7 linked regions of the Homo sapiens genome follow. The protein of the gene in region 5 purifies or fractionates together with the protein of the main gene of each other region. This does not show direct contact. Each region holds a gene or a part of one and is shown on either strand. Other genes may lie near its edges.

What was found.
Region 1: the proteins of LOXL4 (region 5) and THSD4 purify together in Homo sapiens (affinity purification with mass spectrometry; one large-scale study listed by BioGRID and IntAct). This does not show direct contact.
Region 2: the proteins of LOXL4 (region 5) and CAD purify together in Homo sapiens (affinity purification with mass spectrometry; one large-scale study listed by BioGRID and IntAct). This does not show direct contact.
Region 3: the proteins of LOXL4 (region 5) and DNAJB4 purify together in Homo sapiens (affinity purification with mass spectrometry; one large-scale study listed by BioGRID and IntAct). This does not show direct contact.
Region 4: the proteins of LOXL4 (region 5) and NEDD1 purify together in Homo sapiens (affinity purification with mass spectrometry; one large-scale study listed by BioGRID and IntAct). This does not show direct contact.
Region 6: the proteins of LOXL4 (region 5) and PUM1 purify together in Homo sapiens (affinity purification with mass spectrometry; one large-scale study listed by BioGRID and IntAct). This does not show direct contact.
Region 7: the proteins of LOXL4 (region 5) and SAV1 purify together in Homo sapiens (affinity purification with mass spectrometry; one large-scale study listed by BioGRID and IntAct). This does not show direct contact.

The regions. Positions count from the first base shown.
Region 1 is NC_000015.10:71,744,971-71,748,470, reverse strand, and holds part of THSD4 (thrombospondin type-1 domain-containing protein 4 isoform 1 precursor), read right to left. Parts: intron 3,366-3,500; coding exon 3,236-3,365; intron 1,634-3,235; coding exon 1,429-1,633; intron 51-1,428; coding exon 1-50. UniProt on the Homo sapiens protein: Promotes FBN1 matrix assembly.
Region 2 is NC_000002.12:27,226,977-27,231,356, reverse strand, and holds part of CAD (multifunctional protein CAD), read right to left. Parts: intron 1-4,380. UniProt on the Homo sapiens protein: Multifunctional protein that encodes the first 3 enzymatic activities of the de novo pyrimidine pathway: carbamoylphosphate synthetase (CPSase; EC 6.3.5.5), aspartate transcarbamylase (ATCase; EC 2.1.3.2) and dihydroorotase (DHOase; EC 3.5.2.3).
Region 3 is NC_000001.11:78,011,439-78,014,938, forward strand, and holds part of DNAJB4 (dnaJ homolog subfamily B member 4), read left to right. Parts: intron 1-1,612; coding exon 1,613-2,181; intron 2,182-3,500. UniProt on the Homo sapiens protein: Probable chaperone. Stimulates ATP hydrolysis and the folding of unfolded proteins mediated by HSPA1A/B (in vitro).
Region 4 is NC_000012.12:96,910,257-96,914,636, reverse strand, and holds part of NEDD1 (protein NEDD1), read right to left. Parts: intron 1,915-4,380; coding exon 1,820-1,914; intron 1-1,819. UniProt on the Homo sapiens protein: Required for mitosis progression. Promotes the nucleation of microtubules from the spindle.
Region 5 is NC_000010.11:98,246,813-98,251,697, reverse strand, and holds the end of LOXL4 (lysyl oxidase homolog 4 precursor), read left to right. Parts: coding exon 1-132; intron 133-521; coding exon 522-633; intron 634-2,706; coding exon 2,707-2,777; 3' UTR 2,778-4,008; downstream 4,009-4,885. UniProt on the Homo sapiens protein: Catalyzes the oxidative deamination of lysine and hydroxylysine residues in collagen and elastin, resulting in the formation of covalent cross-linkages, and the stabilization of collagen and elastin fibers.
Region 6 is NC_000001.11:30,950,302-30,954,681, forward strand, and holds part of PUM1 (pumilio homolog 1), read right to left. Parts: intron 3,681-4,380; coding exon 3,413-3,680; intron 2,063-3,412; coding exon 1,933-2,062; intron 1-1,932. UniProt on the Homo sapiens protein: Sequence-specific RNA-binding protein that acts as a post-transcriptional repressor by binding the 3'-UTR of mRNA targets.
Region 7 is NC_000014.9:50,657,909-50,662,288, forward strand, and holds part of SAV1 (protein salvador homolog 1), read right to left. Parts: intron 1-4,380. UniProt on the Homo sapiens protein: Regulator of STK3/MST2 and STK4/MST1 in the Hippo signaling pathway which plays a pivotal role in organ size control and tumor suppression by restricting proliferation and promoting apoptosis.

The sequences.
Region 1 (3,500 bases), on a different chromosome or scaffold from region 5:
ACACACTTCACATCACGGGTCCTCTGTCCCACGCCGCAGGGCACCGAGCACTGAAACACAGCACACTGACGTCAGGGGAACCAGCAGCTTCAGCTCTGGGAGAGAATTGCCAGTATGGAGCCCGCAGCCTTTGTGATCAGCCCCATGAGACTGAGGCTCTGTCATGCATGTCACCAGCTGGGGCAGGGATCTGAGCCCTAGAAAACTCCACAACCCTTTTCTACAAGACCTTCTTAGATGCCTCGCCTACTGTAAACTAAAAATAAAATCCTAAGCCTCCCAGCTGACTGAATGGGCCTCCTCTTGGCCAAGGAGACCCCCAGAGAAACCTTAAAAATGGATTTCCTGGCCATGACAGGATGGAAGGTTGGACACACCCTGTCATACCACCTCCGTTTTGCAGTCTAGACACAACCGACCAGCACTGATGTTAAGGGAGAAATCATAAGACTGACAGAATGGACTCTCTGTGGCAATAAGATACCAAATTATAAACAGGACCCAACGCCATGGCAGGCAAGGGGTTAAGTCATGCACCTCTGCCCTTGAAGAATAAACTATGTTCTAAGTTGCCTGGGAAGAAGGTCTTAGGATTCATGGCTTACATCCTGTTTAGAGTAAAGAATATTATTGTCAGTTCCTCAAATCTTATTGTGAATTCTTCAAACTGTTGACATACTGATTAATACGTAACCTGTGGACATTGAAGAGGACACTGGTTTGTTTGGTTTGTTTCTGAGTCATAAAGTTTTGCTGATTTATTTCTGACTCATGAAGTTTTATTGACTGTCTTGCACTTAAAACATTTTAGCCTGTATGTCGTCATCTGTAGCCAGTGATTGCAACCTCTGTGCTGTACCCTCCAATGAAAAAGACAACTCCGATTCAAGGGGTCCCCGTCTCCTCTCCTAAACTTTCTTCTAAAAGCCTTTCAACTTGTAACAGACTTTGGAACATGTCCAACGTTGTTCGTGTGTCTTCTTGGGCTGATCCTTACATTGGCTTCCAATAAATCTTTTATCAAATTATTTCTGCCTTAACAGCCTTAATTTTGACTGACACTACTCTATTCTTCCAGGCCTCAGTCTTTTCAGCTATAAAATGGGTAGGGAAAATTGGAAGGAGTTGGCTCTACCAGCAGTTGCCAACCTTCACTTCACCATGACTCACAAAGCAGATGAGGCCAGTATCAGAGGGCTCCCCCTGGGCTCACTCATAAAGTTGGCTGTGGGTGGCACACACTACCCTGAACTCTATTGAACTATTGGTACATCCTGTGGTTTGCAAAAACAGCCGTCCAGACCCCCACGGGACGGGTTCCCTCCTGTGGAACTCAGGGTTACCCATCTCAGGTCTTGGTGGGGGAGGCTGGAAAGTGTGGTGGGAGCTGGAGAGGGAGCTGCAGAGCGGGCTGCCCTGCCTGCGTACCGAGGTCCAGTCGGTCCGGATCTGCCACTCGCTGCAGATCTTGAGTTGGCAGGTGCTGGTGGTCTCAGGTTTCTCCAGGTGCTGGCAGCGGTAGGGCTGCACCGTCAGGCTGCGGTTGGCGTACACCTGGCGGCACAGAACCTGGCGGTGCTGCATGCCCAGGCCACAGGTCTTGCTGCACTCAGACCACTCCCCGATGTCCCAGCTGGTTCAGGAATGAGAGAGCGAGAGTGAGAGACAACCTTCAGTCAACAGGAAGTCAGCGTGAGCCCGCAGCAGCGTACACAGAATCATCAGAATCACTATGGGTAGAGTTTCTTACTAGAGCATTGCTTGAAAGTCAGCCTAGGCTGGGCACAGTGGCGCACGCCTGTAATCCCAGCACTTTGGGAAGCTGAGGTGGGAGGATGGCTTGAGCCCAGGAGTTCGAGACCAGCCTGGGCAACATGGCAAAACCCCGTCTCTACAAAAAATACCAAAGTTAGCTGGGTGTGGTGGTGTGTGCCTGTAGTCCCAGCTACTCGGGAGGCTGAGGTCAGGGGATGGCTTGAGCCTGGGAGATTGAGGCTGCAGTGAGCCATGATTGTGCCACTGCACTCCAGCCTGGGCAATGGAGTAGGACCCTGTCTCAAAAAAAGAAAAGAAAAAGAAAAAGAAAAAGTCTGCCTAAGGGTCATCTGACTCTGTAAAGGCAGATAAATTTGCCTGACACTTGACATGCTATTTACCAGTGATTAGGGCCCAGATTCTATGAAAAGTTATAGAAAACTGAAAACGTACAAATGATTTTTATCTAATTAAAAAAAAAACCTCCAAAGGTTAGTTTTATTACACTGTAGATCATTAACTCATTTTTGCTACTAACTTAGGAATCTTATTCTAGCATTATTTTTCATTAACAATTCCCGTATCAGTTTTGCAAACCCTCCTCTGTCATCTGCTCTGTTATTAGTTAAATGAGACATCAGCCCATGCTCACCATATACTTGGATGAGAATTATATTTTTATTACTCTGCAAATTAGGTTTTGACCCTTTTAGGGCCCTTTCCCCTTGTTCTTCTTCAAGTGTCCCATTTATCATTCAATAACCAGTTCAAGGCCAGGCGCAGTGGCTCACGCCCGTAATCCCAGCACTTTGGGAGGCTGAGGTGGGCAGACCATTAGTGCTCAGGAGTTCAAGACCAGCCTGGCCAACATGGCAAAACCCTGTCCCTACAAAAAATACAAAAATTAGCCAGGCGTGGTAATGTGCACCTGTAGTCCCAGCTACTCGGGAGGCTGATGCAGGAGAATTGCTTGAATCCAGGAGGCGGAGTTTGCTGAGATCGTGCCACTGCAATCTGGCCTGGGCAACAGAGCTAGACTCTGCCATAAAAACAAAAACAAAACCAAAAAACCGAAACAGTTCAAGACCTCTCCCGAGACACTTTTCTTGGCCTCTCCAGGCTGATGTTTTTGTGACTTGCATTATCCTCTCTCTGTGAACAGCTCACCTACGACACCAACTACACTGGCTTCTCGTTTTTTGCTTCCTCCTTTGTTTTCCTTACCAGGCTCAAACCTAATTGCTCCAGCTTTGTCAAGGGTGGGCTTCCCAGAAGTGGGTTGACTTGCTAAAGGCTATCAGCTCCTGAGTTCATCCTGAAAGACAGGTGTGCCTGCTAAACAGACTGCATTTTATGCATGGTCCAAGTCTTGTATTTCTAACTCAGATTTAGACTGACTTATATCTGTTCCTAAGGTCCTGTGCATAAGTGACCTGAAGTGACCCGGTAATAGGCGACCTAAATGGAGGGGCCTTCTTACAAGGCTGGGCAAGGGAAGATGTTGCAGGGCTCCTCCTCGGGGGTCGGCTTCATGCTGGAGTCACAGTAACTCTCAGGAGCCTCTTCATGAGTGCTTCTGTGCACACAGCGGAAAATAGGGTACTGCGATCCTGCAACAACAGGAGAATGTCTGAAGGACAGTCCCACACACTGGAAAGCTGGGCTATGGGTGGAGATGCACAGAGATTCGGGTGCTGATGAAGAGAGGGCACAGAAACAGTGAGGACAATTCACACATGCATGCA
Region 2 (4,380 bases), on a different chromosome or scaffold from region 5:
AAGTCACATGATGGTGGGATTCATGGTGTTTCACAACTAAGAAATCTTAATGGCCGGGCGCAGTGGCTCACGCCTGTAATCCCAGCACTTTGGGAGGCTGAGGCGGAAGGATCACGAGGTCAGGAGATCGAGACCATCCTGGCTAACATGGTGAAACCCCGTCTCTACTAAAAATACAAAAAAATTAGCCGGGAGTGGTGGCGGGCGCCTGTAGCCCCAGCTACTCCAGAGGCTGAGGCAGGAAAATGGCGTGAACCCGGGAGGTGGAGCTTGCAGTGAGCAGCGATCACACCATTGCACTCCAGCCCGGGGAACAAAGCGAGACTCCGTCTCAAACAAAACAAAACAAACAAACAAACAAAAAGAAATCTTAACTTATAGCTCTTTTCCCTGCTATTTTCATGGATAAGCTCAGGCTTTGTGCTTATTGATGAATATGGAATCAATATGCCTAAAACGGGCATGGGGATACTGGAATATATCCCCATACACTGGATACTGGAAGTTTATCACAGTGGCCCAAACCACTGATGGCTGTCCAGTTATTGGGTTTGATTTATTCACATAATCATAACACCAACTGGAATTCTTTAAAACTTTTTAAAAAAGTGTAGATAATAGGAAGATGATCCTTACTACTCATCCATGCAGAGCAAATCACATTTACAACAATCATTTTAGAGTTTCTCTTTCTGGACTTTTCTTCATAGGTTCATAGGTTTTTTTTTTTTAGATGGACTTTCGCTCTTGTTGCCCAGGCTGGAATGCAATGGCACGGTCTCGACTCACTGCAACCTCTGCTTCCTGGGTTCAAGAGATTCTCCTGCCTCAGCCTCCTGAGTAGCTGTGATTACAGGTGCGTGTCACCATGTCTGGCTAATTAGAGACGGGATTTCACCATGTTGGCCAAGCTGGTCTCAAACTCCTGACCCCGTGATCCACCCGCCTCGGCCTCCCAAAGTGCTGGGGTTACAGGCGTGAGCCACCGTGCCGGGCCCTTCATAGGTATGTTTTACATATCATCACAGCATACATATAATTTCCATCCTGTGTTTTTTCCTCATCATACATTTTCCCACATTGCCACATGGCCTCATCAACACCAACTTAATTCTTTCTTGAGACGGAGTTTCTCTCATCACCCACGCTGGACTGCAATGGCATGATCTCAGCTCAGTGTAACCTGTGCCTCCTGGGTTCAAGTGATTCTCCTGCCTCAGCCTCCCAAGTAGCTGGGATTACAGGCACCTGCCACCATGCCTGGGTAATTTTTGTATTTTTAGTAGAGACGGGGTTTCACCATGTTGGCCAGGCTGGTCTCGAACTCCCAACCTCAGGTGATCCACCTGCCTCGGCCTCCCAAAGTGCTGGGATTACAGGCGTGTGCCACTGCGCCCAACCAACTAACTTAATTCTTGTATGATCTGCCATAATTTAACTACTAACTGAAGGACATTTAGCTTTTTTTTTTTTTTTTTTTCTGAGACGTAGTCTCACTGTGTTGCCCAGGCTGGAGTCAGTGGTGCAATCTCAGCTCACTGCAACCTCTGCTTCCTGAGGTCAAGCGATTCTCCTGCCTCAGCCTCCTGAGTAGCTGGGACTACAGGTGCGTGCCACCATGCCTAGCTAATTTTTGTATATTTTCTAGAGATGGGGTTTCACCATATTGGCCAGGCTAGTCTCAAACTCCTGACCTCATGATATGCCCACCTCACCCTCCCAATGTGCTGGGATTACAGGCATGAGCCACCGCGCCCGGCCCATTTCGCTTTTAAGTGTTTACAATTAGGCAGTCCTGGTGGCTCTCACCTGTAATCCAACACTTTGGAAGGCTGAGGCAGAAGGATCACCTAAGGCAGATTGAGACCAGCCGGCACAACATAGTGAGACCTCCCTCTCTACAAATAATAATTAAAAAAAAAAATTAGCAAGGTGTGGTGGTGTACACCTGTAGTCTCACTCCTCAGAAGGATGGGGTGGGAGATTACTTAAGCCTAGAAGATCCAAGCTGCAGTGAGCTAAGTCACACCATTGCACTCCACCCTGGGTGACAGAATAAAACTCCGTATTAAAAAAAAAAGTTTTCATAATTATAAGTTAGGCTGTGATGTTTTCTTTCTTTTTTAACGAGACAGGGTCGGCCGGGCATGGTGACTCATGCCTGTAATCCCAGCACTTTGGGAGGCCGAGGCAGGCGGATCACGAGGTTAAGAGATCGAGACCATCCTAAGCAGTATGATGAAACCCCCGTCTCTACTAAAAATACAAAAATTAGCTGGGCGTGGTTGTGCGCGCCTGTAGTCCCAGCTACTCAGGAGGCTGAGGCAGGTGAATCGCTTGAACCTGGGAGGCAGAGGTTGCAGTGAGCCGAGATAGCACCACTGCACTCCAGCCTGGCGACAGAGGAAGACTCTGCCTCAAAAAAAAAAAAAAAGAAAAAAAAAAAAGAAAAGAAAAAAGAGACAGGGTCTCGGCCAGGCACAGTGGCCTGTAATCCCAGCACTTTGGGAGGCCAAAGGTGGGTGGATCACCTGAGCACGGGCGTTCAAGACCAGCCTGACCAACAGGGAGAAACCCTGTCTCTATTAAAATACAAAATTAGCCAGGCGTGATGGCACATGCCTGTAATCCCAGTTACTCTGGAGGCTGAGACAGGAGAATCACTTGAACCCAGGAGGCAGAGATTGTGGTGAGCCGAGATCACACCATTGCACTCCAGCCTGGGCAACAAGAATGAAAATCCGTCTCAAACAAACAAACAAACAAAAAAGACAGGGTCTTAGCCTGGCACCCAGACTGGAATGCAGTGGTACAATCACAGCTCACTGCAACCTTGAACTCGTGGGCTCAAGCGATCCTCCCACCTGAGCTTTCCAAAGTGCTGGGATTAATTACAACCACCGTGCCTGGACTGGATATGATGTTTTCTGTTTTGGATAATCTCCTTAGGATAAATTTCCAGATATGTAGAGGCAATAGGTAACACAAATTTTATAGCCCTTGATGAGTACGAATAACTTTATAGAAGTCTGTGCTTCATAATACAAAGTTTAAGCAACCTTCTAAGAAGTGGGCATAAACAGAGTCTCATTTAACTAGATTTCTATTTACTAATGAGAGGAACCGTCTTTTCTCTAGGTTTGCTTATTGATTTCTTCTTCTGTAAAGTGTTGTTCATCTCCTCTGACTATTTACTCTAGGGGCTTAAGTATTTCTTACCAAGTGTATTTTTCTATTTACAATCCTAACATTTACATTTCTTTAAAAAAGTTTTAAAAACACTACGATGTTAACAGTAGTGTGACTGATTTTGTTCAATTTCTTTGTAACTGTGGTTGTAAGACTTTTTATTTTGAGATTTGTTAAAAAAGGAGAAGCCTAATACATGCATACACATATGCCTAGAAATGTATGCAGTCGTAGATACACGGCTGAATTATGCAGTCGCAGATACACGGTCGAATTAATCAATCTCTGTAAGGCAAGATTACAGGTGACTACTGTTCTTTGGTTAAACTATCTTTCCTCGTTTTCCATGATTCATGTTTCTTACTTGTATAATAAAAGTTACAAAAAGTTACCAAAGAAGACCACATTCCAAGAATACTTGAACAGATGTAAAACAATTAAATGTCTCATCTAGGAACCAATCTTTCATTGGCCTATTTTCAATCCACTTCTTTTTGCCACAATTTAATTATGGCTTCATTCCCATGTTTATTCTAATTTTCATATAACAGAGATTCATCTCCAGAAGGAAAAAATTGGCAGTCTTGCAGAATTTCTAAAAATTCTGAAATAATATCTGAGCTTAGACTTACTTGTTTAAAGGCCACTACTGCTCTAAATGGAAATCTGGAGCACCACAAAATGCTCTTATCCATCAGGCTGGTGGCGCTGTGTCTGGTACACGTATATTTTTGTTTTGGTTGAAATGTGTTAGAGGACGGTCTTCGGCAACTAAAGGGATACCACAAAGAAACATACTAACTCAATTCTAACATGCTCTGCCACTGCTGGGTAACGTTACGGCCATTCATCATTCACTAATAAATTTCCTTGTTACCAAAAAGGTTTATGATGCCCTGCTCTGATGTAAACATCATACTAAAAAAAAAGGTCATTTAGTGACCAAAGCACAAAGTGCCAGAGGAGGAGATACTGCAAAAATGAGATGAGATAGTCTGATGGCTTGCACCTATCCCAGAGATTCTGTATTCCAACACAGATTTCCAGATGCCTCCCCAACTCCTGACAAGGACTATAATCTTAGTTTGAAATGTCTCAAGCACCTGCTCCCATAGGACGTAAAAGGCCATGCCAGGGAACTCTTGACATTTAAGATTCTTGGTCATGGTGGGGCCCCATGGGGGTGCCCAG
Region 3 (3,500 bases), on a different chromosome or scaffold from region 5:
TTATTAGAATTTTTTTCACTCTCTGACACAGAGTTCTATTTTAATTCTTTTTTTTTTTTTTTTGAGATGGAGTTTTGCTCCTGTTGCCCAGGCCGGAGTGCAATGGTGCAGTCTTGGCTCACTGTAACCTCTGCCTCCCAGGTTCAAGCGATTCTCCTGCCTCAGCCTCCCAAGTAGCTGGGATTATAGGCATGTGCCACCATGCCCAGCTAATTTTGTATTTATAGTAGAGACGGGGTTTCACCATGTAGACCAGGCTGGTCTCGAACTCCTGATCTCAAGTGATCCACCCGACTCGGCCTCCCAAAGTGCTGGGATTACAGGTGTGAGCCACTGCACCTGGCCCTATTTTAATTCCTAAACAGTAAAAGATGATCTGAAATAAAACTAGTTAGAATGAATATGGTATTTTTATTACATTATATTTTTACATATTTCTATTTTATTTATATATAAACAGTATGAATATGGTATTTTATATTTTGCTATATATTTTATTAATATATTTATATTTTTAAATGTTATATATATTGTTTGATTGTAATAAAAATTAAAGATTTAAGTTCTGCACTTTGTGTTGATTGCTGAAGACCTTCCAACTGACATCTTTTAAAAACTTATATATTTATAAGTAGATACTTATATAATTTATATACTTCAGCATGCCAGATCAGTAGTTTATAAGGAGTTCCCAGTTTTATTTTCTTTTTCTTTTCTTTTCTTTTTTTTTTTTTTTTTTTTTGAGACAGAGTCTCACACTGTTGCCCGGGCTGGTGTGCAGTGGTGCGATCTCAGCTCGCTGCAACTTCTGCCTCCCAGGTTCAAGTGATTCTCCTGCCTCAGCCTCCTGAGTAGCTAGTATTACAGGCACCTGCCACCACACCTGGCTAATTTTTTGTATTTTTAGTGGAGGCGGGGTTTCACTGTGTTGGCCAGGCTGGTCTCAAACTCCTGACCTCATGATCTGCTTGCCTCGGCCTCCCAAAGTGTTGGGATTACAGGCATGAGCCTCTGCGCCCGGCCTTATTTTATTTTTCTTACTTACCCGTGGAACAAAGAATCAGGAATAAATATTAGAGATGCTGATTTGGCCGGAAGCAGTGGCTCACACTTGTAATTTCAGCACTTTGGGAGGCCAAGGCAGGCAGATCACCTGAGGTTGGGAGTTCGAGACCAGCCTGACCAACATGAAGAAACCTCGTCTCTACTAAAAATACAAAATTAGCCGGGCGTGGTGGCACATGCCTGTAATCCCAGCTACTCGGGAGGCTGAGGCAGGAGAATTGTTTGAACCTGGGAGGCGGAGGTTGCGGTGAGCCAAGATTGCGCCATTGCACTCCAGCCTGGGCAAACAAGAGCGAAACTCTGTCTCAAAAACACAAACAAACAAAAATGCTGATTTGGAGGAAGAATTTGAAAACTTAACAATTTAACTTAGGATGTAATCATCAAGAGTTTTATAGCTGTTCTGTATTTAGTAAAGTGGCATTTCTGGCCAATATTAATACATTTTAATGTAAGTTAGCCAAAATTTATTAGCAATACAGTTTTTGAAAGTTTAACTTTTAAGAGTTGCAAGCTTTTTTCTAATCATGCTTATCTCTTCAATTAGGGTTGAAAGGAGGAGCAGGAGGTACTGATGGACAAGGAGGTACCTTCCGGTACACCTTTCATGGCGATCCTCATGCTACATTTGCTGCATTTTTCGGAGGGTCCAACCCCTTTGAAATTTTCTTTGGAAGACGAATGGGTGGTGGTAGAGATTCTGAAGAAATGGAAATAGATGGTGATCCTTTTAGTGCCTTTGGTTTCAGCATGAATGGATATCCAAGAGACAGGAATTCTGTGGGGCCATCCCGCCTCAAACAAGATCCTCCAGTTATTCATGAACTTAGAGTATCACTTGAAGAGATATATAGTGGTTGTACCAAACGGATGAAGATTTCTCGAAAAAGGCTAAACGCTGATGGAAGGAGTTACAGATCTGAGGACAAAATTCTTACCATTGAGATTAAAAAAGGGTGGAAAGAAGGCACCAAAATTACTTTTCCAAGAGAAGGAGATGAAACACCAAATAGTATTCCAGCAGACATTGTTTTTATCATTAAAGACAAAGATCATCCAAAATTTAAAAGGGATGGATCAAATATAATTTATACTGCTAAAATTAGTTTACGAGAGGTAAGTTGGTAGGACCTAAAATCCTAAGACCAAATAATTATGTAGTTGATCATAGGGAGTGTATCTAGATAATAGCTAACATTTATTTAATGCCTATTATACGTTAAAAATAATTACTATAAAAATCCTCTAAGATAGTACTAGTATTATACCTCTTTTATGGATGTGATTATATTTTCTAACTTTAGTTACTTATAATTAAAGTGTCAAGTGTTAACTGGATTATGTACTATGAGGCTGCTTTTACAAATGTGGTTTATGAGATCTGCATTGGTAATCTCAACACATTAGTCTTTGTATATAGGGTTTGTTCTAAATTTGTTAATATGGAGTAATAATTGCATACCAAAAAAGATTAGAAGAAAATAATTTATAATTCACTACAAATTTGTATACATTTATATTAATAAAAAATACATTTATAAGTGCATATAAATATATACATTTATAAATTATAATGCTACTATGTTAATACAATTATTATTTGAGTTCTTATTTGCACTATTTCTTTTTTTTTTTTGAGACAGAGTCTTGCTCTGTCACCCACAGCGCAATCTCGGCTCACTGCAACCTCTGCCTCCGGGTTCAAGTGATTCTCTTGCCTCGGCCTCCTAAGTAGCTGGGATTACAGGCGCCCCCCACCACACCTGGCTAATTTTTGTATTTTTAGTAGACACAGGGTTTTACCATGTTGGCCAGGCTGGTCTTGAATTCCTGACCTCAGGTGATCCACTTGCCTTGGCCTCCCAAAGTGCTAGGATTACAGGCATGAGCCACCACGCCTGGCCTATTTGTACTATTTCTCAAATTGGATTGTAACTTTGCAAATATGGTCATAGCAGTTCCCTGCTTCAAATTCTTAAATTGCTCTATATAACCTCTACCATAAAGTCCAAACTCTTTAGCTTAAAATAAGTCATTTTAAATCTGATGTCTACCCATAAAATGTATATGCACTTCCCCAAGTTTGCTCTATTATTATTATTATTATTTTTTTGAGATGGAGTCTCGCTCTGTCACCCATGCTGGAGTGCAGTGGCACAATCTCAGCTAGTACTGCAGCCTCCACCTCCCAGGTTCAAGTAATTCTCCTGCCTCAGGTTCCTGAGTAGCTGGGATTACAGGTGCCCGCCACCATGCCCAGCTGATTTTCATATTTTTAGTAGCGATAGGTTTTCACCATGTTGGCCAGGCTCGTCTTGAACTCTTGACCTCAAGTAATCCGCCCACCTCGGCCTCCCAAAGTGCTGGGACTATAGGCATGAGCCACCGCACCTGGCCCAGTTTGCTCTATTATTATCTTGTATACTTGAGCTGTA
Region 4 (4,380 bases), on a different chromosome or scaffold from region 5:
GCCTCAAATAATACACGAGTAAGAGGACTTGGAAGTTACAAAAAGGTTATTAGCACATTAATATGTTTCTGTAAACATTACTAGTAAAAGCTAAAAAACCAATGTTTCCAAATATTTTCATAACTAAATTAAAATAGATTGAAAATTTGAACTCAACTAATCTTACTTTTATCCAACAGCATTATGATACAATTTGTTAACTATGGGAAAGAGGGCTAAGAATCATAGCAACTAATTTGGAATATTCACAAAACTCTTAGAATTATGTCACACTTGTAAATACCATCTGTTATTTTTATACTTTAAAAAAAAAGCTCCCAAATACTGATTCACTGATCCTAAGGCATAATGCATAACAGTAGTACATATATATAGTGGTAGAGTAGAAGTTGAAATTGTTTTGATGTTGACATTAACAAGTTTTTTGAACATCTTAGGATACAAAGATCCAAAGATGGTTAAGATGTTTTGCCTGCTCTTGAAGACTTCAGTCTGCCTTTATCGACCAGAGACATTCTATGCCTTGATTCTGCTTAAGTCAGGTTAAACAGAGTGCCTCAAACTCCATTTCTACTGTTAGCACATGTTCCCTCTGTCCCAGTCTCCAACATCTGTGGGTTAGAACTGAAGTTCAGGTCAATCCCACTGGATACCTTTAGGAGAGGATTGATAAAAATCATGAGTCCTCTTTAAATTAGTTGAGCTTTTATTCAGTTGTCCTGCTGTTTTCTTTCTAATTGGGCTACTTTACCTATCCCAGTGTGTAAAATTATGACAATTCATAATAATTTAAGATCTGCTAGAAAAACTTTGAAATTAAAAAAAAAAGCTATCAACTACCATATCTTTTTATTTAAATCTTATCTTATTTAAAAAAGAAATAGCTTTCAAAGAGTGTGTGACTAGAAATGAAGAAGCCAGTATTATCCTTAATCAGAGGGATTAACTTATAAAACAAAAGGATAGGCTGGGTGTGGTGGCTCATGCCTGTAATCCCAGCACTTTGGGAGGCTGAGGCGGGCGGATCATGAGGTCAGGAGTTCAAGACCAGCCTGGCCAACATGGTGAAACCCCGTCTCTACTAAAAATACAAAAATTAGCCAGGCGTGGTGGTGGGCACCTGTAATCCCTGCCACTTGAGAGGCTGAGGCAGGAGAATCGCTTGAACTGGGGAGGCGGAGGTTGCAGTGAGCTAAGATTGCACCATTGCACTCCAGCCTGGGCAACAGAGCGAGACTCCATCTCAAAAGAAAAAAAAAAAAGGATAAGGCAACAGTACGTAGTGAGAGCTTCATTTAAACGCCCTGGGACCTAAGCTCATTTTGACAAAGCCAACCTGTTTAAGGAGAGTATGGGGGAGGCTCAGACAGGCCCCTCAGTACAGGTGGACAGAATCTGAAGCAGAGAGCTACCATCAGCTGTGAGTCTGTTCCTGATGGTCCTGAGCCCAAGATCAGTAAAGCAGTGCTGTGTCATTAGAGTTTATATGCTCAGGTCAACCTAGTAACCTATGTGGGATATCGTCCTAAAATAGCAGCAACAGAGATCCTCTCCCACTGAGGGAAAATGGAGAAATGAAGTGCCTAGTCAACAAAATTCAAGTCTTCAATTGTTCCCCTATATTCAAAACTATTTTACCTAAAAATACTTTAGTAAGTACACATATCTCATTTTTAAGTGTTACTATATTATTTTGAGCTTAAGTTAAAAATAATGCTTTTAAAAACCTTTATATTTAGTCGCAAGCACCACAATAAGCAATTGCCAGTCAAGCAAAACTAAGATTTTTAAAAGTTTAAAAAAAAAAAAAATCACTTACCCCTTCAGCAAGCTCTAAAAGTGGAACAGGTTTACATTTGCAACTTGAGACAACTATTTTGTCGCCACTGGAAGATGCTGTTACTAAAAAGTTATCTAAATGAGGAGTTATGGAGCATCAAACAATCCATGAACATCTATAGCACTAGACTATTATAAGAATTGCGATTATAAAAGCTAACACACTAAGAAGACAAGCAATGAGTATAGCTTACAGAGTAGCTTTCAAAAATGGCTCACATTACTATTAATAATTACTAAGACTAATTCTCTTTGCTACTACTGCAGGGAAGAACTAGCCTTCTTTCTGGCTCTGCTATCACTCAAAAGCTATTTAACCCACGTGAAATACTACTCTGTTTTCAAAGAGTAGGCCAGAAGGGCTAATTTTATCCTTCAAGAATGAGAGCATGATAAAAGCAGCATCAGCAAATATCAATCAACCTTTTCATCTACAGAAACTGTTCAAGATATTTATTAACCTAGTGCTTGGTAACAATCTAAACTAGGAAGCAAACATCCACACTAGTCTCCTATTTTTCTATTTAAAAAAAAAAAAGGCCTGATATTTTCCCAGAACATGAATTTTTGTGATAGAATGTTTCAATCTTAAATTAAGAATGACTATTACAGTAACTTGCAAATATTTTATAAATATGTATGGTTAAATAGGAATTGTGTTATGAGTTTTAATTTTTAAATAAAATGTAATTTTATTTACCTTCTTTTACACGAATTGTAAATGGAACAATCAGTAAACACAAAACAGTAACTATTTTAAAACTAAAATGATTAAATACAATAATATAACTAAGAATAAGAGTCTGATTTTGAGAGCCATAACAAATTAAAATATCAGAAGTTTAAATCTGTGCTTTTTAGCAATTAAAATCTGTGAGTAAAAGCAATGGAGAAAGGTTAATTAGACACTCAGAATCCCTAACTGCATTAACTTTTGAATGTTCTGTATAACTTTCAGGTATTTTGTAAACAGAGCATAGACTGTAATTTTATTATGATACATGATGCAAATCAAATCATTCCTACCTAGATATTACCATAGCGAGAAAAACCATTTCCCTTTCCTTGACTTCTTCCTGTTTACCACTACTTTTCTCCTTAGAATATAGAAAAAAAAGGACTGAAACATAATGTGGGTGGGTAATCTAGTTCTTTTTTATTTCTCTTGTAGTTTTAGAAATCATGAGAAAGTGAGGAACGTAAGTTAAAGGACAAGAAACAAAAAACTAATCTCTCTGGTGTCTCACATTAACCCCATTCTTGGAATCTATACTATGTGGACCCCAAGTTGCTAAGGCTGGGAACTCCTTGTTCTTCAGTAATTAACCTCCATGGAAGTGATCAAAGCCTTATTAAGAATAAGACTGTATGAAGGCTTTCAGTGCACATCTGCTCATGCAAGAAAACTGTAAGACCAATTTCCAAAAGTCATACAACACTATCTCATAGCTACATCAGTTTTGTTGTTAGACTATTAAGTAGCACATCAGTAAATGCCAACTCCTAGTAAAACTTAAAACAAAAGTCAACCAAAAAATAATCTTACTACAAATTGCTACCTTTCTCTTATATAGTAAGAGGGAAAATTAAGCTCTAAACATAATGAAAATCTAAAAATAGAGAACAGCAACTTCATATACTTGTCGCTCTCTTTAAAATATTTTCCCTATTACACATCTGGAAAGTCCTTCAAAAATGTAGTCACTTCACCATGAGTTTGATTAACAGAGTACCAAAGTAATTTGTTTTACTGCAAAATCAAGGAATGATAAGGAGGTAAATTTAATTCAGTAAGAAAATTTGTCCTTCTTGTTATATACATGCAAGAATAGTAAGTCATATAAAACTTTTAATATTTTTGTTCCTGAACCAGTCACATTTTAAAGCTTTGATTTTTTTATCAGAAAGTAGAATACTTTGGTGTTGATAAAAATCAGATAAATGTTAAATCTTAATTTGTTAAGAAATAGCGTATGAGTTTCACAAAAGAAAATTTCTAACATACCAATTACATAAAACATTTTCACATAAAAGGTGATAGGAGCACTGTGGTCACAGCAGTGGTTCTCTACTGGGAGTGATTCAGGCAATTCTGGAAACGTTTTGGGTTGTCACAACTAGAGGCTATTGGTACCTAACGGGTGAAGACCAATAAACCTCCACGTGGTACAACATACAGGAAAGGTCCACAACAAATTTTCTGCCCCAAAAAGTCAATAGCACAGGGTTCAGAAACCCTAGTTTACAGTCTTCACTCCCTCATTTTATTTTATCCACATTGAGGAGCTCACCAAGACAGGGAAGGTGTCAATCAGAAACATAAAAAGCTTAGAAAAGTTCAATCTAGGTAACTTTACTATGTCTGTTTAGGAAATGTAATTTTCATCACACACACAGAGAGGAAGGAAGATATGGAGAGTACATTAGTAAGATGGAGATATTGGGCAATTTTTTATCTCCTCCCCAACTTGCTTCTGCCTTCAAGTTCTGTCTTTAATTTTCAGTTCAGATCCACAAATACCCAAATGTAGATGCAAAAAC
Region 5 (4,885 bases):
CAGCGGCGCTACGCATGTGCCAACTTTGGAGAACAGGGAGTGACTGTAGGCTGCTGGGACACCTACCGGCATGACATTGATTGCCAGTGGGTGGATATCACAGATGTGGGCCCCGGGAATTATATCTTCCAGGTAAGGCGGCTGGGGGATTCCCCACAGAGCCTGATTTCCTCCAGATGTTCCACAACTTTCCCTGAGGGCAAATGAAGGGAAGAATTTCCCATACAGGGTTTCCGACAGGCCTGTCACTTAAAGGAGCTGTCCTGTTAGGGAAGTAACAGTCAAGCTGGGTCCAATGAACCTGTGTTTGAGTATTGATTCAGTGAACACTGGATAAATCAGTTTCTCAGTTGGGACTTCTCAGTCCCTATCTGTAAAATGGGAACATCAGTACCTACCTCCTGGGTAATTGTTAAGAATTAATGAAGCAAATAGAAACACATGTAAGGATTATCACAGCCACAGTCAACTCATTCAGAAACCAAATCACCCATTTTCAGTTGTCCCCTCTTTCACTCTAGGTGATTGTGAACCCCCACTATGAAGTGGCAGAGTCAGATTTCTCCAACAATATGCTGCAGTGCCGCTGCAAGTATGATGGGCACCGGGTCTGGCTGCACAACTGCCACACAGGTAACTCCGAGCCACTGTGGAATCAGCCATCTATAGGCTCAGGGAGCTGGAACACTGTAAATGTACCCTCTGCTCCCACACTCCAGCGTGTGACTTGTATGTGTGTGGTGTGCAAAAGGCTATGGATGGAACAGAGATGCATTTCCTTTGACATCTTACAAGGCAGACTTCTAGAACTGGTCAGACCATCGGCTTCACCCAATAACTACATCTTCTACATCCCTGTTTGCACTTAAGGCTGTTTGATTGTAAACTCAGTTTCCAATCTGTTCTAGAATCTTTCCTGTCACCTCAAGCCATGTCAGGATTTTCAAGTCCATTATTTTTCCTTTCTCTTTCATATAGAAGTTAGGGTTAGGGTCCTCACAGGCAAAAGTAGTCCTCTTGCTCTGTGTTGCTGTCTCCAGCTGTGATCACTGCTTGCAAGAAGGGGACCATGGAAAACAGAGCCACTTACAGGATTGGTAGCATCAGTCAAAGGAAGCATCATGATCCAGTGGGGGCAGAGAAGAGGGGCTGTTCTGTCAGTAAAGACTCCCTCTATCTTCAAGGGTTAAAAATGCCCATATTTGCTATGGGATATGCATTCACTCATACTTGCATATGTGCGGTGGGATGGGGCAGAGTTGTTCATTTAGTCAACAAACATTTACTAAGGCTCACTATTGTGTTGAACGCTGTGCCCCAGAAACTGGGAATGTAAGTGTCAGATAGGGTATGCACACATGCAAATAGCCCCAATACTACTAATGTGTGGACTGAATGCTGAGCAAGCACAGACAGAAAGCAACCTGTTGGGGGCTAGCACAAGCTTCACAGAAGTAGTATTTGATCTGAGGTTTGAAGGAGGAGCCAAAGTCAAACATGGGAGGAGTAGAGAAAGAGCACAGGACTGGGCTTTGGAAGGCGTCACCCGAATCCAGTCCCACCACTTTCTAGCTGGAGGACAGTGAGGAAATCACGACCTGAGTTTTCTGTTTTGTAAAATGGGGCTGTATACTTCAAACTTACTAAGTACTAGAGCTTTTTGCAGGGAGGGTTGTGATAGTTCTAAGATAATGGATTTTATCCCGTGGGCTTCTGGGAACTATTGACAAATTTCAGTCAAGGAGGCAAAAGATCATTTAGGTTTTCAAAAAATAACTGTGGCAACAGATGGACGAAAATGAGAAGAGGAAGAACAGTCTAAGGTTTCGAATTTGTGTGGCTGAGTAGATTGTGCTGCCACTTAAATGAAACAGGGATATTGAGAGGAACCAGGAACTGGAATCCAAGGCTACGCACACGGAGACAGCAGATCCTCCATAATGCTAGAATCAGGCTGCAAGGGTTCCCAGGCAGTGACAAGGGCAAGAAAAATAATGCAGTCCTGCAGGTCCTCTTGCCAGTGTTTAGGATCCAACAGGGCTAAACAGAAGTGTGCGGAAAACAGAAGGCACACTCGGGTGAGAGTCTGAGTTTATTTAATTAAAGGACTATTTATAAGAAAACAAGGAGTGTTGAGACATCAAGCATAAAGAAAGTAGAAAACCGTTATCTGCTTTAGGCTTGAAGAGGGGCAAGGGCTGCTTTGCAGCCAGGTGCAAGCCAGAGTTGTGAAGGAGGGTGAACCTAGCTGGAACAGGAGTCACAGACCATCACTGCCAGAACCACAGGGCCAAAGTAGGGGAAGGAATATCCGGCCTCTCTCCTTCCACCCTCTGACCTTCTGCTGTTGCTTTCCATTGACCCAACTCAAACAAACAAAAAAAGAGGACAAAGGAGCCAGAGTGATGTAATCGCTAGGCATCAGCTTCCTAGGGCACAGAGGGAAAAAAGGGCAGAGAATGAACCTGGGGAGGGGGGCAAAGGAGAATAACTAGCACAACTCTTTCCAATCAATAGCCTGTTCTTCCTGATGTTCCTGAAACCACACACCTGTCCCAGGCCTATTTCTATAAAATGATTGGTGTCTGTGCCCATGCCATGACTTGATATAAAGGATGAGCTGGGCAGAGTGGATCTATGTAAGTTGTCAGGGAAGGGATGAGACTGGAAAGGTTGGCTACTTACCTGTTTTCCTTTGGCCCACAGGGAATTCATACCCAGCCAATGCAGAACTCTCCCTGGAGCAGGAACAGCGTCTCAGGAACAACCTCATCTGAAGCTGTCACTGCACACTCCTAGCTGCTGCCGATACACCAGATACCTCAGCTTATTGGAGCCATGCCCTTCACAGAGTCCCAACTCAGAGGAAAAGGGCCAGTGCCAAGGGGCACCAAGAACCTGCTCAGGAAGCCTTTTGATGGCAAGATCACCAATCCAGATGGTATTGCTCCCTCAGGATGGCTCTGGGCCTGCCCCTAAGGGCCTGTGGCCTATGGAATATGTCCTCCAGGCTTTGCTCAGCTGAGCTCCTCTTCTGTAAGGAAACCCAGTCATCCCTGAATCTTGCCACAGAGATCCGGGATTCAGGAGCTCTCAGTTTCTTAGGGATGGACTATGGCCCAGTCCCCCATCTAAGTGGTGCTTTGCAAATGTCTTGGAGGAGTATAGGACAGAGGACCAAAATACACAGCAGGTAGTGTTAGCTCTCTGCTAGGAGCTCAAAGCAACACAACTTGTATCAAAATCACAACTGGCAGAGAAGCTGGTGGATCCAATCCTTTCTTCATCTGTTGTTATTTAGAACTCACCTCTCACACTCTGTTCTTTAGTGTCCTTACCTTTATCTTACCACACACATGGGTGTTTCTATTATCCTTGGAAGCACAGACCTCGGGCATCCCCTTATTGCCTGATGGGCCAACACCAACAGTTACGGAGTGCTTGAGAAGGGGCAAGTTTCACAGAAATGGCCAGATAGGGCCTTCCTACAGAGCAGCAAGAGTAGGCCAAGCAGAAAGACTGCTGAGGTAACACGGACCCCAGCCCCTGTCAGGGCCTCTGCCAAGGAAATAATATGGACCATTTACCTGGCAGGCAGTCTGCTCTCTCTCAGGATCACCACGCATCTCAGGATTGGTCTAAACTTCAAGTCTCAACCAAGTGTCTGAAGTGAACTTTGCATTGAATAAATTTTTGCCATGGAAAGAACATCAAACAAGCCACTCATCTCTACAGAGATAAGAAAACAAGTTTGGCAGAGCAAGAGACAGAAGACCGTGGAGAAATCAGAAGGGGGAACAGTCAGTTTAGTTAAGGATGGAACCTGGGAAAGGCCACCATTCCTGCTTGATGGGGCTCTGATTTGCTCTTGCTCAAGTGGAATAAAACCCCATGGTCTTCTTGACATGATTCTTGATCTTTTCTCCACTGAGACACACTTAAGTGATGATCCTTACAGGACTGACACCCTAATGCCAATAAAAGTTGCTCATTATGGACTGCTACAAAGACCAGACCAGCTGTGATTATGTACACACCCCAGAACCACAGACCTACCCTTTTGCCTCCCATGGAGCCAGGGCCTGGGATACACAGGGCACACATGCTTCTCATGACTGCCCATCTACATTTCTCCAATCAGACATAAGTCTGCTTCCCAGTCAGCCTCCCCAGGCTTAGAGCTGAAACACGGGTTAGAAAGGTTAAGGGGTAAAGGATAGGGGCAAGAAGGTAAAGTCTGAGGATTGCAAACTTTTATAATCAAGGCTGCGAAGCCAAAATAAATGGTAGCAGATGGAGCAGATTTACAACAGCACTACCCCCACCACATCACAAGAGCCACCACATCACAAGAGCTACCCCCTCCTTAGGGAGTAAAAAGGGACATGTTCCGGGGAACCCTCTGTGAATACAAAGAAGTGCTTTCTTCCTTATCCCCGACCTTCCCTCTCCTCAACTCCCTCATCTCCTTCATTAGGCAGAGGGAGCATTATATTTTGGCATGGCAGTTTAGGTAAACAAGGGAAGGACTGATTTCCTGTTGGATCCAGCAAACATCCCCCAAACAGTAACAACATTATGCTCACACATGCAGCTAATGGTCTGTGAAAGAATGTGCAGCTAGCAGGGGAGCATGTGGTGACTGATGACTAGATTCAAGCAGGGAGGTTACCCACAGCTGCTTGCTGGATCCAGTTTCTAAGAGGGACCAAAAAAACAGGCCAGGCAGCCAGCCACCGGCTCTGGTCTCAGCCTTGCTGCCCACATTACACGTTTGATAGGTGCAGCCAGTTCTAATTCTTGGAAAAGGCCATACAAGGGTTGTGCTGTTACAACTCTGAGCTGAAAGGGAAGGACATGGGAAGACTGGTGGCTGGCATGACTT
Region 6 (4,380 bases), on a different chromosome or scaffold from region 5:
AGGAAATAAACCAGAGAAAGCAAAGCATTCATTATTCTGCATCAACCACTGGCATAACCTCTTTTAGCCCTGATACCCATGATTAACTAAACCTTTTATTTAAAGAGCCATTGCTTCTTCAAGCCAGTAGTTCTCGATCTCTTAATTATGAGTAACCCTTTTTAATGTTAAGAAGTTTCTCGGATACCCAACAATAGGTAGTTTCACTATTAATATCTGCTAAGCAAACACATAATTCCTCAAAGCTGTCATTAATTCATACTATTAAATGAATCTGGCCAGGTGCAGTGGCTCACACCGGTAAACCCAGCACTTTGGGAGGCCAAGGAGGGTGGATCACCTGAGGTCAGGAGTTTGAGACCAGCCTCGCCAACATGGCAAAATCCTGCCTCTACTAAAAACACAAAAATTGGCTGGGCATGGTGGCACGCTCCTGTTAACTCCAGCTACTCCGGAGGCTGAGGCAGGAGAATCGCTTGAACCCAGGCGGCAGAGGTTACAGTGAGCTGAGATAGCACCACTACACTCCAGCCTGCCCAATGGAGCAAGACTGTGTGTCAAAAAAAAGAATCCTACACTCTTACTGCCAAAGCACACATGGACACACTGTTTTGAAATAGTATTCTACATCATTAAGAGAATTGATTTTTTTTTCTCCTATTTACACAAGGTAACAGAGTTGGGAGGGGAAAAATCAGTAGAATCAAGAAGTGAGGCTACACAATGTTAAAATTCTACTTAGAATGATTTTCCATCCTTGGCTTATTATTTTCATTTCAATCACATAATCGTGAGATTGGAGGAGACTTTATGAATTCTCAGCCCATCCAACCTCCTCATTCTCCCAAGGGAAACTAAGATCCAGAGAAGTTCTCAAGCTTGGTCCAAATCATATGGCTATAATCCATTGTACATTTTGTCACCCCAAGGTGCATCAGCCTCCAGAACTAGAAAGCTCAGTATTTTTATATATGTGACAAAACGGCAGTGCAAAGTCATTCTAAAATCAAAAATACAAAAGTCATGTTTAGATTGGTTTCTTAGTCCAAAGCTGAAGAATTCAGGGTGAAAAAACATAAGTCTTCATGAAAAAACTTGGGAAGGTAAAACTTGAGTACGTCAGTTTTTCATCTTCATACAAATCAAACAGGATGAGATGTTAAGACATTTACAAATTTGTTTTGTGGTAGGTAATGTGCAGAATTCCAGCATTTTCCTCCCCATACCAGACTCCTCCTCATCTCGAAGTTTTGTGCCATTCTGCATCTACACCTTAGGGTTGCCAATACCAGATAATAAGGGCTACAATGGTAAGCAAAAAAGTCCCTGCCTCTCTGAAATTTTACCTCACTAGAGGGAAAAGACATCAACCTAACAATCTCATTCTTTCCAAAGACAATGATACAACAAGTGAACATTATTCAAATTAACAGAAGTAAAACAAGAAATCAAGGCCAAACGATCAGCCAAGAAGCAGCATTTAACAATTCTTGTGACCCTAGCTGATAATGAAACATACTGGAGTCGGTGTCCAAAGACAATTCTCTAAGAACCTTAGAAAAATTTGTTTTTGGCAATATTTTATTGTGATCCTGCTAAAACTACTTTACAAGGATTATTTCCTCCTTAAGTGACACGTTTTGTGAAACTATTATAACAATCTGAAATAATGTGCTGGGTCCTAAATGGGGACACCAGTTTTCGAAACACATTTCCAAAATAGATTGGCATTATCTGCTCGGATATTTAAACCATACAGAATAGATAGACTGCTGCTAATGAATTGGAAAAACACTAAAAACCTCTTCAAAAAGACCACACACCCTTCATTCTGAGGACTGGAATGGGACTGCTATGCTTAAAAAGGCTAATGAAAATCAAAATGCTCTGCAGATTCTCTTAAGTCAAAGGATAGAAAGAACAAAGGCTTACTTCAAAGAACTTCTGAATGACGTAATTACCAAACACATCCACCATGAGTTGGTAGGCAGCCTGGAGGATTTCATTGAAGACAAGCTGGCGCTCAGCTGGTGTGGCACGCTCCAGTTTCAGCTGAATGAATCTGAAGTACAAAGTAAAAAGGGCAATCACAGCACTGAAGGAAGACCTGGAGATACATCAGTGTACCTCGGTTTATAGACTGCATCCGTTCTGAAACATGTGAGTGAGCATGTGTGCACACACATGCACACAATAAACCAAACTTTATTTGAATGAATCACTTGAACTCCCTTGAAGAGTTTTTAAATAGAGGAAGAAGGTCCTAACTTAATTGAGCTTTGAAAATTACATATAAATGTTGGCACATTTCATTCCAGTAGGGCATGCATACTGAATCTTATTTATGTGCAAGGTGGGAGGGAAGATGAAAGCGGGGGGGGCGGGGGGGGGGCGGGAGGGGCAGGGGTGCAGGAAGAGAGGAGGGGTGGAGGGAGACATAACACAACATGTACCCTACTTGACTTTTTTCCTTTAGAAACCAGCCTCACATCAATGAACTCAAAGCTTACAGTCCTTACTATATTCTTTAACTTATTTTCATATAAAACAGTACTCATCAGCTACTCGGGAGGCTGAAGCAGGAGAATGGCGTGAACCCGGGAGGCAGAGCTTGCAATGAGCCAAGATTGCGCCACTGCACTCCAGCCTGGGCGACAGAGCAAGACTCTGTCTCAAAAAAACAAAACAAAACAAAACAAAACAAAAAAACAAAAACAAAACAGTATTCATTATCTTCTGAAGTAGTAACAGTCTGCCTTTTTTTAGTCCAAATGACCACTATCAGGAAAATCATGTTGCCTCTGAATCTAGCCTATAGAATTCAAATATGAGAAATTTTGGCCCAGTAGCAAGCTGGCAGAACTTAAGGAGGAGGTAGCTTCTGTAGAAACTGTTTCACTGGACACAGTATCAGAGAAAGAAACAGAAACAGAAATGGGAAAGAAGGATGGGTGTTGTCACCATAATTATGCTCTATCCCCAGGACCAGATTCGCTTTCTGTGAAGCCCACTGCAGCAGCCCAACAGGAAGGGGTAAACCAAACCAAATTCTGTCTTCTATAATAGTTTCTTCTCTCGTCTCTACATAGACTGTCACTTCTACAGAGTGGAACAACAAAGAAAGGTGGTAGAGCTGTCTTACTCCTCAGCACCCTAGATCAAACTTGTATTTGAATAGCAACTCTTTGAGAGCAAAAGATTCTTCATAATGCTTAAAGCAGCCGAAGTGTATGTATGTCTTTGTGTTCATGTTTGTTTCTTAAATCCCTATGAAATAATGTGATGCAAACTAAGAGGCACGCTTTTAAAAAATTACTATATGGCAATTTATTTAAGTAGATACCCATCTGAGCCAAGACAGTTAAGGCATTACAATTTCGGGTACCTTAAAGTGCCAAAGCCAAGTACTCACCTGGACCCATGCTGGTCTTGGGAAAATTCCATTATATGTCCAGCAATCTCCCGCAGTTGTAAATTGGGGTACCGGTTGTTTCGAAAATCTTCCAAAAGCCTGCTCCTGCCAGAAGGCATGACATCAGACATTCCATATCGCAAACGAGAGGAAGAGAAAAGAGTGCTGCTCGGGCTGAAGAGGCTGGAGGCGCTGCTTGCACTGCGGTACTTGGCTTCAGCGCCTGGAGCAGCAGAGATGTATCTTCCACTGCCATTCGTGAGTCCTCCTGTTGGTTACAGAACAGGATAACTTAAGACCACTCTTCAGCAACTTCATTCAAGAGAGAAAAAAGCATTCCCACACCCGAAAGCCTGCACCATTTCTGATTTCTTCAATGCTGTTGTTTTTGTGTCAAGACAATTCTATTAGCGTCATGACTTTCGTGGGTCAACTCAACAACCTGGAAGGAAACTTTTGCACAAAGATTGAGAAGGGAATGCTTTTACCGTTGATGGTAGACTGCTAGTAAGGCTGGAGCAACAGTTAGCATGGCCCCTAGTAAATGAAATGAGGAAGAAATGTGCCGACCAGGTGAACCTAGCACCTGAGCACCAGCAATAAAAACTCAGAAAATGCAAAACAAACTCAGACTGGAGTGGTTTTCCATTCTGAGATCTGCGGAGATTCCTTTCATTCTTGAATAACCCCCATTTCCATCTGAAACCCACTCTAAAAAATCAGGCATCCAGATTGGTCTGTTTTATACAGGGGATCCCATGAAAAAGCTGTCTTTGAAGGAATGATTTTGCCACTAAATAGAAGTGTGAAAATCGCTAAGACATTCCAGGCCATGGATGAGACATAATGAGTACAAGACAGGAGATGCCTTAAAAATGAAAAATTTTCGAGTTTTCATTACAAATGGACAGCTCTTAACAATTTCTATTGTGACACAGCCTGAAATGACTGTAGTTCCAACAACCTTC
Region 7 (4,380 bases), on a different chromosome or scaffold from region 5:
GATCTACCATTATGAATAAGACTCAAATAGGCCGGTTTCCAAATTTTGTAGTGGCTACAGAGAATAAAATGGATCTAGAGCTCTAACACAGTTCCACAGGGTCCCTAGTAATGGATGCTACACATTATTAGCATGTGTTATAATCAAGATGTTGATAAAAAGATCTAAGTATTAAACTCAACCAAATGCTTTCTCTCTTCCTCTGCAAAATAAATACAGAAAAGGTGGTGTCTCTAAAGATTATCAACCCCTCCTCAAAAGATTCTGGTTACACAAATATTTACACATTACCCGAGTAACTGCAAATCCAGTATTTCTTGATAAAGCTCACACTTTTCAGTCTGATTTTTGTATCCTGATTTCTTTAGTCATCTTTAAACGTTTAAAAATGTTTTCGAGACAGAACTAAAATTTAAGCGCAAAACAAAGGAATTCAGTCTGCCTTTAGTATTCCAACTAAAGACTTCCTGTTAACAGCAGGATTCCTTTCTTTGGAACATACAGTAAGTGCGTGACTGGTATGCGGCCAAGAACATTAAAGGTCAAATTTTCTAATCTGAAAGTTCTACAGCTAAACGTAGAACTTTCTAGGCTCTAAAACTTTCTGAGATTATACAACTTGTTTTTGTGCTTCTACTAAATACAATAAGCTGAATTTAACCCTTGACACAAGGTGTTTCCTGAAAATCTAATAACTAATTGACAGGAATTACTATTGCCATTAAGTCATTACAAAACAAATTTTCCAACCTTTTTATGCTTATGACAATCAAAATTCAATGTTTCTGAAAATAGATCTATCGCACAAACCTATCCTATCCTCCTACAAACTTACTTTCTCCTTTCTATTCATTCAAATTCCTTGAACCTTATTCAGCATAAATCCTAAAAATATGTTTTAAGTCTTCTCAAGGTGAATTCAAGAAACTTTCAGCTACTGTCTCATATTCAGATTTTTCCCTTGTGGAAGAGGCAGTTATTAGGCTTTTCTGTTTGGCATGTAATTGGTTATTAATCTTTCCCTGCAACTTTAGAGATTCCTTCAAAAAAAGTACTACTTTTTTCTACAAGGTAAAACATTAAATCTATATTGCCCTGATAAAAATTAATCTTATCAAATGAAGTCTCTCAAGCTCTCAAGCAGTGTATCAACTGCTGTAAAGAATTTTTTTTTTTTTTTTTTTTTGGTTGGGAGAGATACCTTATTACCTGAGATTCTTCAACTACCTGCAACCTTCTTTAAACCTAACGCAATCTGATATAAAAGAGCCTGGGATGAGACTTCGAAGGCAGAAGTCTACTGTCTCATTAAAACAAGGTCTTGGCTATTCCATGAAATCAAATCTTATTTCAGTGCATGTGTGTTCCAATAAAACTACTGTATTGCAGGAGGCAAGTCTATCTGGCCTATGGGTGTAGCTTGCTGACTCCTGCTGAAGCCTCCCTCATAAAATTAAAAACACCCTCAAGATTAAAATTACGGTAGGGGCCCGAATTTTGATAAAATATTTTCCTTCTCTTTTTCCACCTCCATGTATGACTGCTTGCAAAGTCATTTCAACAAATGGCAGTCACTAATAATTGTCTTCCTGTGGCAGCCCCTGGGCAGGCTGCCCATAAGATTAACAAACCTGTTTCTTTTAAAGAACAATAATCCAGACTGGGTGCTGCGGCACATGCCTGTAATCCCAGCACTTTGGGAGGCCAAGGCAGGCAGATTGCTTGAGCTTGGGAGTTTGACCAGCCTGGGCAACACTGAAATTCAGTCTCTACTAAAAATACAAAAAATTAGCCAGGTGTGGTGGTGCATGCCTGTAGTCCCAGCTACTCAGGAGGCTGAGGTGGGAGGATTGCTTGAGCCCGAGGTCGAGGCTGCAGTGAGCTGTGATCATGCTACTGCACTACAGCCCGGGCAACAGAGCAAGATCCTGTCTCAAAAAAGAAAATAGAAGAGAAGAACAAGAAAACAATGATCCTAGATCACACAGACCCCCTTGATAGTTTCCAGAATTTGGACTGGCCAAACAGGCCAGGCCACTTTGATCACTGGTGATCTCACCTCCTGCAAACTCTTCTGCTAAGCTATAGGTTTAAACAGTAACCTGCCATTTTTTCCCAGCTTTCTTTCCATAGTAACTGGCAGTCACAAACACTACTGTAAAACCTAAGACTGGTCTTCGAGATATTTTTCAGACTTTGCTTACAAGTGGACCAACTGACACCAAATGGACCAGTGTTCCATGAACTCAACCAAGGAACTGACTTGGTCTTGTGACTCCCCAATTTCCCAGCAACTGATTCAGCACATGAAGACAGCATTGATAACCCTATGATCTCATACCAGTCCAATCACCAGCACCCATCCCCTAGCCCCCTGCCTGCCAAATCATCTTTAAATATCTTAGCTTCTCCAGTCTTGGCGGTGATGACTCTGAGAAACATTTCCCATCCTCCTTACTCAGCTGCCTTGCAATAATTAAACTCTTTCTTCTTTACAGTATCTGCTGTCTCAGTGTTCTGCTCTATTCGGATAGCAGACAAGAGCCCAGTCAGGTGGTAACATTGTTTTATAGCATTTTTTGGATACATAATTATTTGCACATGTTTATGGGGTACATGTGATATTGTGATACATGCAAAGAGTATGAAATAATCAAGTCAGGGTATTTAGGGTATCCATCACCGTGAGTATTTATCATTTCTATGTGTTGGGAACATTTCAAGTCCTCTCTTTTAGCTATTTCAAAATGTTAACTGTAGTTACCCTACTCTGCTATCAAACCTTAGAACTTATTCCATCTAACTTTATGTTTGGACCCATTAACCTACCTCTCTTTACCTCCCCTCCCATCCTTCCCAACCTCTGCTATCATTCTATCTCCATGAAATCAATGTGTTTCGCTCCCACATGTGAGTAAGAACATGAGACACTTCTCTTTCTGTGCCTGATTTCCCTTAATATAATGACCTCCAGTTCCATTCAAGCTGCTGCAAATGACATGATAAACATGGGAGTGCAGGTATTTCTTTGATATACTGATTTCTTTTCCTTTAGATAGATACCCAGCAGTGGAACTGCCGGATCATATGGTAGTTCTGTTTTCGGTTTTCTGAGAAATTTCCAAACTGTTTTTCATAGTGCCTGTCCTAATTATTGTAACATTCCCACCAACAGTCTGTAACAGTTGCCTTTTCTTCACACTCTCACCAGTAGTATATTTTTTTGTCTTTTTAACAATAGCCATTCTGACTGGGGTAAGACACCTCACTGTGGTTTTCACTTACATTTCCTTGACGATTAGTGATGTTGCACATTTTTTCACATACCTTTTGGCCATTTGTATGTCTTCTTTTGAGAAACGTCTATTCATGTCCTTTGCCCACTTTTTAATGGGGTTGTTTTTCTTACTGTTGGCTTCCTTGCATATTCTGGATATTAGTCCCTTGCTGGATGAATCTTTTGCAAACACTTTCTCCTATTCAATATGTTGTCTCTTCATTCTGTTGTTTCCTTTACTGTGCAGACGCCTTTTGGTTTAATATAGTCCCATATGTCTATTTGTTTTTGTTGCCTGTGCTTTTGAGGTCTTAGCCATAAAATCTTTGTTAGATCGATGTCCTGAAGTGTTTCCCCTACATTTTCTTCTAGTACTTTTATAATTTCAGGTCTTAAGTCTTTAATCCATCTCAAGTTGAATTTGCATATGGTGAGACAAGGGTCAGATTTCATTCTTCTGCATGTGGATATCCAATTTTCCCAGCATCGTTTATTGAAGAAAGTGTCCTTTTCCCAATGCACGTTCTTGGTGCTTTTGTAAAAAAATCAGTTGGCTGTAAATATGTGGATTTATTTCTGCATTACCTATTTTTGTTCCATTGGTCTATGTGTCTTTCTATACCAATACCATATTATTGTGGTTACTATAGCCTTATTTGTGGTTACTATAACCTTGTATGTGGTTACTATAGCCTTATTTCGAAGACAGGTAGTGTGATGCTTCTAGCTTTGTTCGGTTTGCTCAGGATTACTTTGGGTATTTGGGCTCCTTGTTGGTTCTGTGGAAATTTTAGGATTGTTTTATTTCTGTGAAAAATGACTGGTATTTTAATAGGGATTGCATTCAATCTGTAGATTACTTTGAGCAACATGGTCATTTTAATGATGTTAATTCTTCTGACCCATGAGCATGGGATGTCTTTCCATTTGTTTTTGTGCTCTTCAATTTCTTTCATCAGTGTTTTGAAATCTTGTTATTTATTTATTTATTTATTTATTTTGAGACGGAGTCTCACTCTGTTGCCCAGGCTGGAGTGCAGTGGCGCAATCTCAGCTCACTGCAAGCTCCGCCTCCCGGGTTCACACCATTCTCCTGCCTCAGC